Linked DNA regions of Homo sapiens. The protein of the gene in region 1 interacts with the protein of each later gene in a biochemical or structural test. Each region holds a gene or a part of one and is shown in the gene's direction. Other genes may lie near its edges. The genes, in order: IFNAR1 and FBXW11.

Region 1 (4,422 bases):
AGAGATGGAATATAGAGATGGAATATAGAGATGGAATAGATATGGAATATAGAGATGGAATAGATATGGAATATAGAGATGGAATAGAGATGGAATATAGAGATGGAATATAGAGATGGGATATAGAGATGGGATATAGAGATGGGATATAGAGATGGGATATAGAGATGGGATATAGAGATGGGATATAGTGATGGAATATAGAGATGGGATATAGAGATGGAATAGATATGGAATATAGAGATGGAATAGATATGGAATATAGAGATGGAATAGATATGGAATATAGAGATGGAATATAGAGATGGGATATAGAGATGGGATATAGAGATGGAATATAGAGATGGGATATAGAGATGGAATATAGAGATGGGATATAGAGATGGAATATAGTGATGGGATATAGAGATGGAATATATAGATGGAATATAGAGATGGAATATATAGATGGAATACATATATATTCCATTGCATTGTTCTTTACAAACATTCATTTAATTATGTAATTGCTAATTAATTGCTTGGTTGTTATAACAACGAAGTATTTGATTCCTTATTTTATCTCATCATTTAAATTTTATTTCGCATATTTTCACAATGCACTGGATCTATTACTGAGGAATTTAATTAAATAATCATTCGAACCATGGGCTCGAATTGTTTACTGATAAAGCCCGACGACCAAAACAGCCTAGCGACTGCTGTTTGGAGCCCCTCGGCCCAGGGCCCGTGGCTGTTCTCTCCAAGGGACCATCTCGCCCCTCAGCCAAGTCGCCCGGAAAACGAGCGCTCGACCGCCTCTGCCCCGCTCTCGCTCTGCACACAGCAACGGTCTGGTCGCTCAGCCACTTCCTCCTTCCAGCCTCATCTGGTTCCCAGGCCGCTGGGGACTCCCAACGCCACTGTCCAAGACTCTAGGGTCAGCAAGCGCCCCGGGCGGAGAAGGGCGAGGACGAAGAGCGCCGGGCCGCGACCAGGAGCCCACCCGCGCCCTCCGACTGCAGACATGGGGAAGAGACGCGGGAACTCCAAAGTCGCTGGGTCTGCGCAGGTGTGTGCCGCGATCCTGTGAAGGTCAAGGCCTCCTGTGAGGGGGAGTCGTCCTGGAATGCGATGGTGAAGTGCTCCAGACCGGCCATAGGCCGGAAAGAGTGAGGAAGAAGAGAATGCAGGAGGCCTGCGATTTCTAAGGCGCGCGCGCACAGGGGTGCTGCAATTAGGATGGGGCAATGGGAGCTTGGAGAAGGGGTGCTAGCTAGGAGGAAAGGCGCGTGCGTGGAGGAACGGCGCGTGCGCGGAGGGGCGGTGTGTGTGTCAGAAGAGGCGGCGCGTGCGTAGAGGGGCGGTGAGAGCTAAGAGGGGCAGCGCGTGTGCAGAGGGGCGGTGTGACTTAGGACGGGGCGATGGCGGCTGAGAGGAGCTGCGCGTGCGCGAACATGTAACTGGTGGGATCTGCGGCGGCTCCCAGATGATGGTCGTCCTCCTGGGCGCGACGACCCTAGTGCTCGTCGCCGTGGCGCCATGGGTGTTGTCCGCAGCCGCAGGTGAGAGGCGGGGAGGAGAGTCTTGGCGCAGGGCGGGAGGTAGGGCACGCAGCTGGGCTACGGGGGCGGCGATGCTGTTGGGGGCGACAGACGCCCAGTCTGGGAAACCTTCGGTCCACTTTGCCGCGCCAAAGATTAAACCCGACCTGGGCTCGCAAATCAACCAGGAGAAAGTGGTGTTCTGGGTCCTCTCTTGCCGCTTGCCTGTGGCCGTGTACGGGTCCTCGGGAGCGCCCGGGTCCCACCCCCGTGAAATGGCGGTGCCAGAGCTTTGTGTCGAGTTTGATTCTTTCCGGGAAAGTACCGCGGCTCCGCTGGTCTGTTTGATAATAAACAAAACATTTCCCGAAATGCATTTCCTCAATCTGGTGAATAGGCGCCCAGTCCCACGGGGGAGTGAGCTAAGTGTGGCCAGGATTTCTCTGCCCTCAGGATTCATACAGGCCAATAAAAAATGACAGTCGGAGTGACTGAAGCATAATTGTCAGTTCTCGAGGTTTACTAAGCCTGCTTCAGGGCGCATCCGGGAAAAACGTGAGCCACAAACACGTCTGTGACTGGTTTTCCAGAGGTTTTCAGGAGGTGGGGCAGGAAGGCAGTAAGGCAAATAGTTCTGTGAGAATTTAGTTAGTGCCCAAGAAATCTGTATTTTAAGATACCATGAGTGTCTTGAAGAGAAAAAGAGAGTAAAGGGAGTCAGTTATGCAGATGCCTCTGGGTAGATGGAGTCTTGACTTTGTTTTGCACCTGAGAAGATAAGCTTGTAATTGACATGGTCAGTGTGGAAGGCCTGAACTAGTTTTTCAGATTAACTTTGGAATGCCATTTGTTGAGAGGAGAGGTCCATTCACATTGTTGGGGGGCTTAGAATTTTATTTTTGGTTTACTTAACTACCTACTTTTTTCCCAAAGAAATAATCATGTTCAAAACTCAATGAAATGTTATCTCAATGAGATTGTAATGTTGCTCAGTCTTTCAGAAGTCATAAAAATAGTCATACTTTTTAAACTAGTAAATGCAATTCTAGGACCCAAGACTAAGAAAACTGTCCAAAATATGGGAAGACATTTTTATTTATACTTTTTTTTTTTTTTTTTTGAGACAGCCTGTTGCCCAGGCTGGTGTGCAGAGGCGTGATCTCAGCTCACTGCAACCTCTGCCTCCCAGGTTCAGGCGATTCTCCTGCCTCAGCCTCTTGAGTAGCTGGAATTACAGGTGCACGCCACCACATCCGGCTATTTTTTGTATTTCTAGTAGAGATGGGGTTTTGCCATGTTGGCCAGGCTGGTCTCGAACTCCTGACCTCAAACAATCCACTTCAGCCTCCCAAAGTGCTGGGATTACAGGTGTGAGCCACCACGCCCGATCTATTTATGTTTTAGACTTTAGTTTTAGGAACTAGACTTAGGTTGTAGACCTGAAGTTACAGTTGGCATCCCCTTGTTTATGGGAGACCAGCAAAGAATTGACTTATGAATGATCTGTCAGGGTAGCCCTTCGCAGATGGCTGAGTCTTTTTATCCTTCCTTGGGGATTTGGCTGAAGCATAATGCTAGTAACAGCCATTCGTTTGGAAGAGGGTGTTGCAGTCACTTGGCCTCTGGGCTTAACTAACTTCCCTTTTGCGTAAGAAAGTTGGGAGAGGTCCTGAGATTTTTTTTTTTCTTTTACAAAAATAATAAAAGAAAAATACAAAGGCAGGGCGTCACCAGGCTAATTTGCTGAAATTCTTCATACTTACTTGGGATGCATGGGGGAATGGCAACTATTACAAGGTTGATAGAGAGTGAGAGGTAATTTTGTAGTGAGGAGGGGTACCCAAAGAGAATCAGGGCTAGCATCCCAGTGCAGGAGTCCAGGTGGTCTGTGAGCCTGCAAGTGAGTTCAAAATACTTTACCTGTTGGCTTAGGAAACCATATACCTGTGTGGTACATGATATCCTATTTCTCAAACTTTTCCACAAATATGTAGTATACTTTTCCTAGGATGTGGGTACTAGGGTCCTGGTGCATCCCATAGTAATTTCTTTGAAGTCTTTTGTTTATGAAAAACTTGCATTAAACTCATGTTTGGTTTGATGTGAAAAAAGCTTTCCCAGAATTTTCATATAAAATTGACATTCCAGGAGGGTGTGCATTAAGAAATTAATTTAAAATTAGGTTAGCGGACAGGTGGCAAGATATAATTTATAGGCATTTATCATTTCTTAAGCTCTTAGCTGTGTGCCAGGCAGTAATCTAAGTGTTTTAAAGGTATAAACTCATTAAGCTTTCAGAGCAGTGTAGATACTGTTATGCTTAGTTAACAGACAAGGAAACTGAGCAACGGAGAGATCAAGTAACTTGCCTGAGGCTGTATAGGCCAGTCCGTGGAGGAGTGGGAAGTCAAATCCTGAGTCTGGACTAATAGCCTTGGGGCTTAACCAGACTAGACTGTTTTCCCAAAGGCCAAACAATTTAAATTCCTGATTGTCCACTTGTATGTTAAGGGCCTAATTATCAGTATCTTTCAGTTAACTGTGAGCCCAAAAATATCTGAGACCGGTCTGAAATCAACTTAGAAAGTTTATTTTGCCAAGGTTAAGGATGCATTCATGACACAGCCTCAAGAGGTCCTGGCCACATGTGCCCAAGGTGGTCAAGGTCCAGCTTGCTTTTATACATTTTAGGGAGACATATCAATCAGTACATCTAAGATGTACATTTGATTGGTTCGATCTGGAAAGGCAGGACAACTCAAAGCAAGGCTTCCAGGTCATAGGTAGATTTAAAGATTTTCTGATTGGTAATTGGTTGAAATCAATGGAAAGGAATGTCTGGGATGTCCTAAGGGGTTGTGGAGACCAAAATTTTATCATGCAGATCAAGCTTGTCCAA
Region 2 (3,816 bases), on another chromosome or scaffold:
ATTAGATCTATGCTGTAACTACAGAGAGAACCCACCCAGTCCTATTTTTATGCCTGGTATCCTGACAGAAAGAGACTGGTGATTAGTTTATATTGACATTGAGCATTGGGATTTATGTTTGATCGGTTTAGTTTAGACTGACCAAATTGTGGTTTTTGAATTCTTATTCTTACCATCATCAAAGCTGATGGTTTTAACCTTAACAGAATAAGCAGTGAGAATTCATACAAGATTTTCTTCTGAGTTGTATTGTTCATTGAATTAGATGACAATGGGGGAAGAAACGTGTTGGTTAAGAATGTGCTCGTTACCCTTGGTTAGTTTCTGCTGATCGCAATTGCTTAAGAGGAAGTTTGTCTTTGTAGGCAAATGAGAGACAGACCAGGAAGACCTGACAATCCAGTAGGGTATCTCTTACCTGGTTCTTAGTGTTTTAATGAAACTAAAAGATGGAAGAGTTCTGTGATGTCAGCGGGAAGCGTTTTTAGGAAATTCCCTCTCAGGTTGAGTTAACAATGAAGAGCTTCACAAAATGGAAAGCTGTGAAGTATAAACACTGGGACATTAATAGGAAAAATAAAAAAAAAAGCTTTGGCTCTTTGGCTTGTGATAGAGAGGTGTGTAAATATAAGCATATTGAATGTAGGAAACCATTGTATAGTAAAAAGCCTCTGATCCACAGAAGAAAAAGAAAGACTGAGGTTCTACTATTGTGAAAAAGGAACTTGAGTAATTTTTAATGTTTATTTTTTTAGGAGTTAACTGGAGAACATTGAACCAGTTTTGGTAACTAACAATAAAATATATTTTGGCCCTCTGAAATGACTACATGATAGATTCAAAGAGAAAGGGGGCAGAGGGGCAGGAAGAACTCAGTCCTGACACTACTCACCTGGCATCTGTTAATCTTTGTATTACTAGCATAAGGCCTGCCAGCAATTAGGGATTGAAGAAATATATATATACAATTAGGGATTGAAGAAATATATATGTGTGTGTATATATATATATATTTTTTTTTTTTGAAGGGAAGGGAGAAAAATTAACTCACTAGTACAGGGGAAAAGCCTGAGGATTCAAGAGGTCCAGAAATGAGTCTGTTAGTCAAATTGCTGTGGTTGTGTTTTGCTATAACTTGTTTTGCATTTTGGATAGTCGTACCTTGAAAAGCATAGTATACTGTTTTAGCAGTTCGCTACTAGCCATAGTTCCCTAGCTACTTCTGTCAAAATTGGGTTTCCAGTTTATTCTTAGGCTTAGGAGTAATACCACTTAATGGGAAAAACTTGAGAACTCATTATTTGCTTGGGATTTTACTTTTGTGATCTCCTTAAAGTTGTGAGTCTTAAGGTATTTTCATCTGATTGTTATGGCGAGGTTAATCATAGACCGGTATTTCAGTCACTTTAATTGCCTTACCTACAATATGAACAATCAGAACATCTTTAAGAGTCATTGCCTGTGGACTGTCAACAAATCTTAGAATTTAAAAATTACTTGGGTTCAGCTGGATTTGAGATTCTTTGTCACAGTTACAATCTTTGCTGCTAAACACAAAGACTACTTGAGTACCATTATAGTATGTCTTGCCACAGTCTTTTTTTTTTTTTTTTTTTTGAGACGGAGTCTTGCTCTGTTAACCAGGCTGGAGTACAGTGGCACGATCTCAGCTCACTGCAGCCTCTGTCTCCCGGGTTCAAGTGATTCTCCTTCCTCAGCCTCCCGAGTAGCTGGGATTGTAGGCATGTGCCACCAGGCCCGGTTAATTTTTGTACTTTTAGTAGAGATGGGGTTTCACCATGTTGGTCAGGCTGGCCTCACACTCCTGACCTCAAGTGATCTGCCCGCCTCGGCCTCCCAAAATGTTGGGACTACAGGTGTGAGCCATCGAGCCCAGCCTATAATGTGTTTTGTTTTAGCATTAATATTGTGGGCTTTAGGCTGGGCATGGGGGCTCACACCTGTAATCCCAGCCCTTTGGGAGGCCAAGGTAGGCAGATCGCTTGAGCTTAGGAGTTCGAGGCCAGCCTGGGCAACATGGTGAAACCCTGTCTCTACTTAAAAAAAAAAAAAAAAAGACAAGAAAAAAATATCATGGGCTGTAGAATTGCATGGCTCTTTGTTAATTAAATGCTTTTTTAAGTGGCAAGATCTAGGGAATTACCCTTTCAGGATGGCCCAACTGATTCATGTAGGCTGAAATATTTACTCTTCTGTATTTTCATTGTTCTCCATTTTGATGTTAATTAATTTAGGACCTTTGAGAGTAAAGCTTGATTTCTTCTCCTCTCTCAGAAATCATGGGCTTTCTGACCCTTGAACTGTGGAGTCCATAGTGCTCCATGAAAAGGGCATGGGCTCTACTACCTAGTAGATGTGGGACTTTGGATAGGTTACTTCTTTCTGCTCATCTTTTTTTGAGAATTAAATATGGGTAATTAATGTAAAGGGCTTGGCCAGTTAGTAGCTTTTCAATAAGGTAGGTATTACTATAATTACTGCAGGAGCATTTTGGCTATAATGTAGCAATTGTGGAAGTAGCAAATTTATGTTCGAGTAAGTTCAGTCTTTTTGTTTTTATCTTTGTTGTTCTGCTGAATGCTTTTTCTCTTTCCCTTTTAGTTTGTTTAGAATTTGCAGTCTAATTTGATATGGTAGAAAAAGAATATTGATATAATATGGACAGGACTTAATATTTAATGGTGTCACCTAGTAAATTGTATATTAGCGTTCTTTATGATTTTTCCCAGTTTACGTGATCATTGGCCATTGTACGGGACTGGCCTTTACTGAGTCAGAAGTTCAGTCTTCAGTTATATGTTTTGAAGCACACTATATTTTAGCTAAGGGTAGAGGATTTGGGTAATATGTAGATATGATGTCTTATATGTAGCAAACCAAAACATTTTGTTAGGTACGTAAATAAATATCTTTATGGTAGATATTTGAGCCCTCTCGTATCATTCTTTTTGGCTGACAAACTATTTTTCTAATGGTGGAGGAGCTGTCTTAGAAAATGGATAAGGAAGTTCAGTGTAGCTGAATGGTCTAGGACAATTTATATGGATGATAGGGTAGGTATTTTTTAGCTGCTCTCATTTGGAAGTTGCATGCTGTTTATCATGAGTAAATATTAACATTAGGGATGTTCCATTATTTGTTACGAGTTTTGTATCCTTTCAACACAGAGGTGAGGAATGCTGCTGCAGGCATTTTATGCCAAATAGCTGACTCAGGGGTTATAACTTTTTTCCTGTGCCTCAGATCCACCATTCCATTGACCCTTCCTTCCATTTCTTGGAGGCTGTCCTTTGCCGCTGGTGCCATGGTGGGTGTATGGATTGCTTTCTGTCTTTCAACAGTTACCGAAGTGCATGTTTGGGATTTTGTTGAAGAAAGCTGGATACAGTAAACGGAAAGAATCTTGGAAGATGCTTGACTGCTGTCTTTTCTCAGACTAGTCTGAAAGGGAAAACCCCCATTCATTCTGGATTGGTGGATCTGAAGTACAAAATATTTTCCAGGTAAGCAATTACCCTGTATTGTTTTGTTTTGTGGAACTCAACTCGCTGAAAGAAATTTTGAAAAATATTTTCCCTTATTTATTTTGTCCATTAATAGGGAAAGGGAGAAATATTAGACGTTTGTGCGTAGTGTCATGTTTGGCCATGTTTGAGTGTGGATCAGTGAAGGTCTATGTGTCTGAATTCCTGGTAAAAACTTTGTTTTACTGTAAGAAGTGCAGTTATTATTATCTTTGAGACATCAGGTCGCCCAGGCTGGACTGCAGTGGCACAAACATGGCTTACTGCAGCC

The links.
Region 2: the proteins of IFNAR1 (region 1) and FBXW11 form a complex in vitro, tested with the Homo sapiens proteins (one study listed by BioGRID and IntAct).

The regions. Positions count from the first base shown.
Region 1 is NC_000021.9:33,323,588-33,328,009, forward strand, and holds the start of IFNAR1 (interferon alpha/beta receptor 1 isoform 2 precursor), read left to right. Parts: upstream 1-1,382; 5' UTR 1,383-1,468; coding exon 1,469-1,544; intron 1,545-4,422. UniProt on the Homo sapiens protein: Together with IFNAR2, forms the heterodimeric receptor for type I interferons (including interferons alpha, beta, epsilon, omega and kappa).
Region 2 is NC_000005.10:171,996,598-172,000,413, reverse strand, and holds part of FBXW11 (F-box/WD repeat-containing protein 11), read left to right. Parts: intron 1-3,362; exon of another isoform or gene 3,363-3,524; intron 3,525-3,816.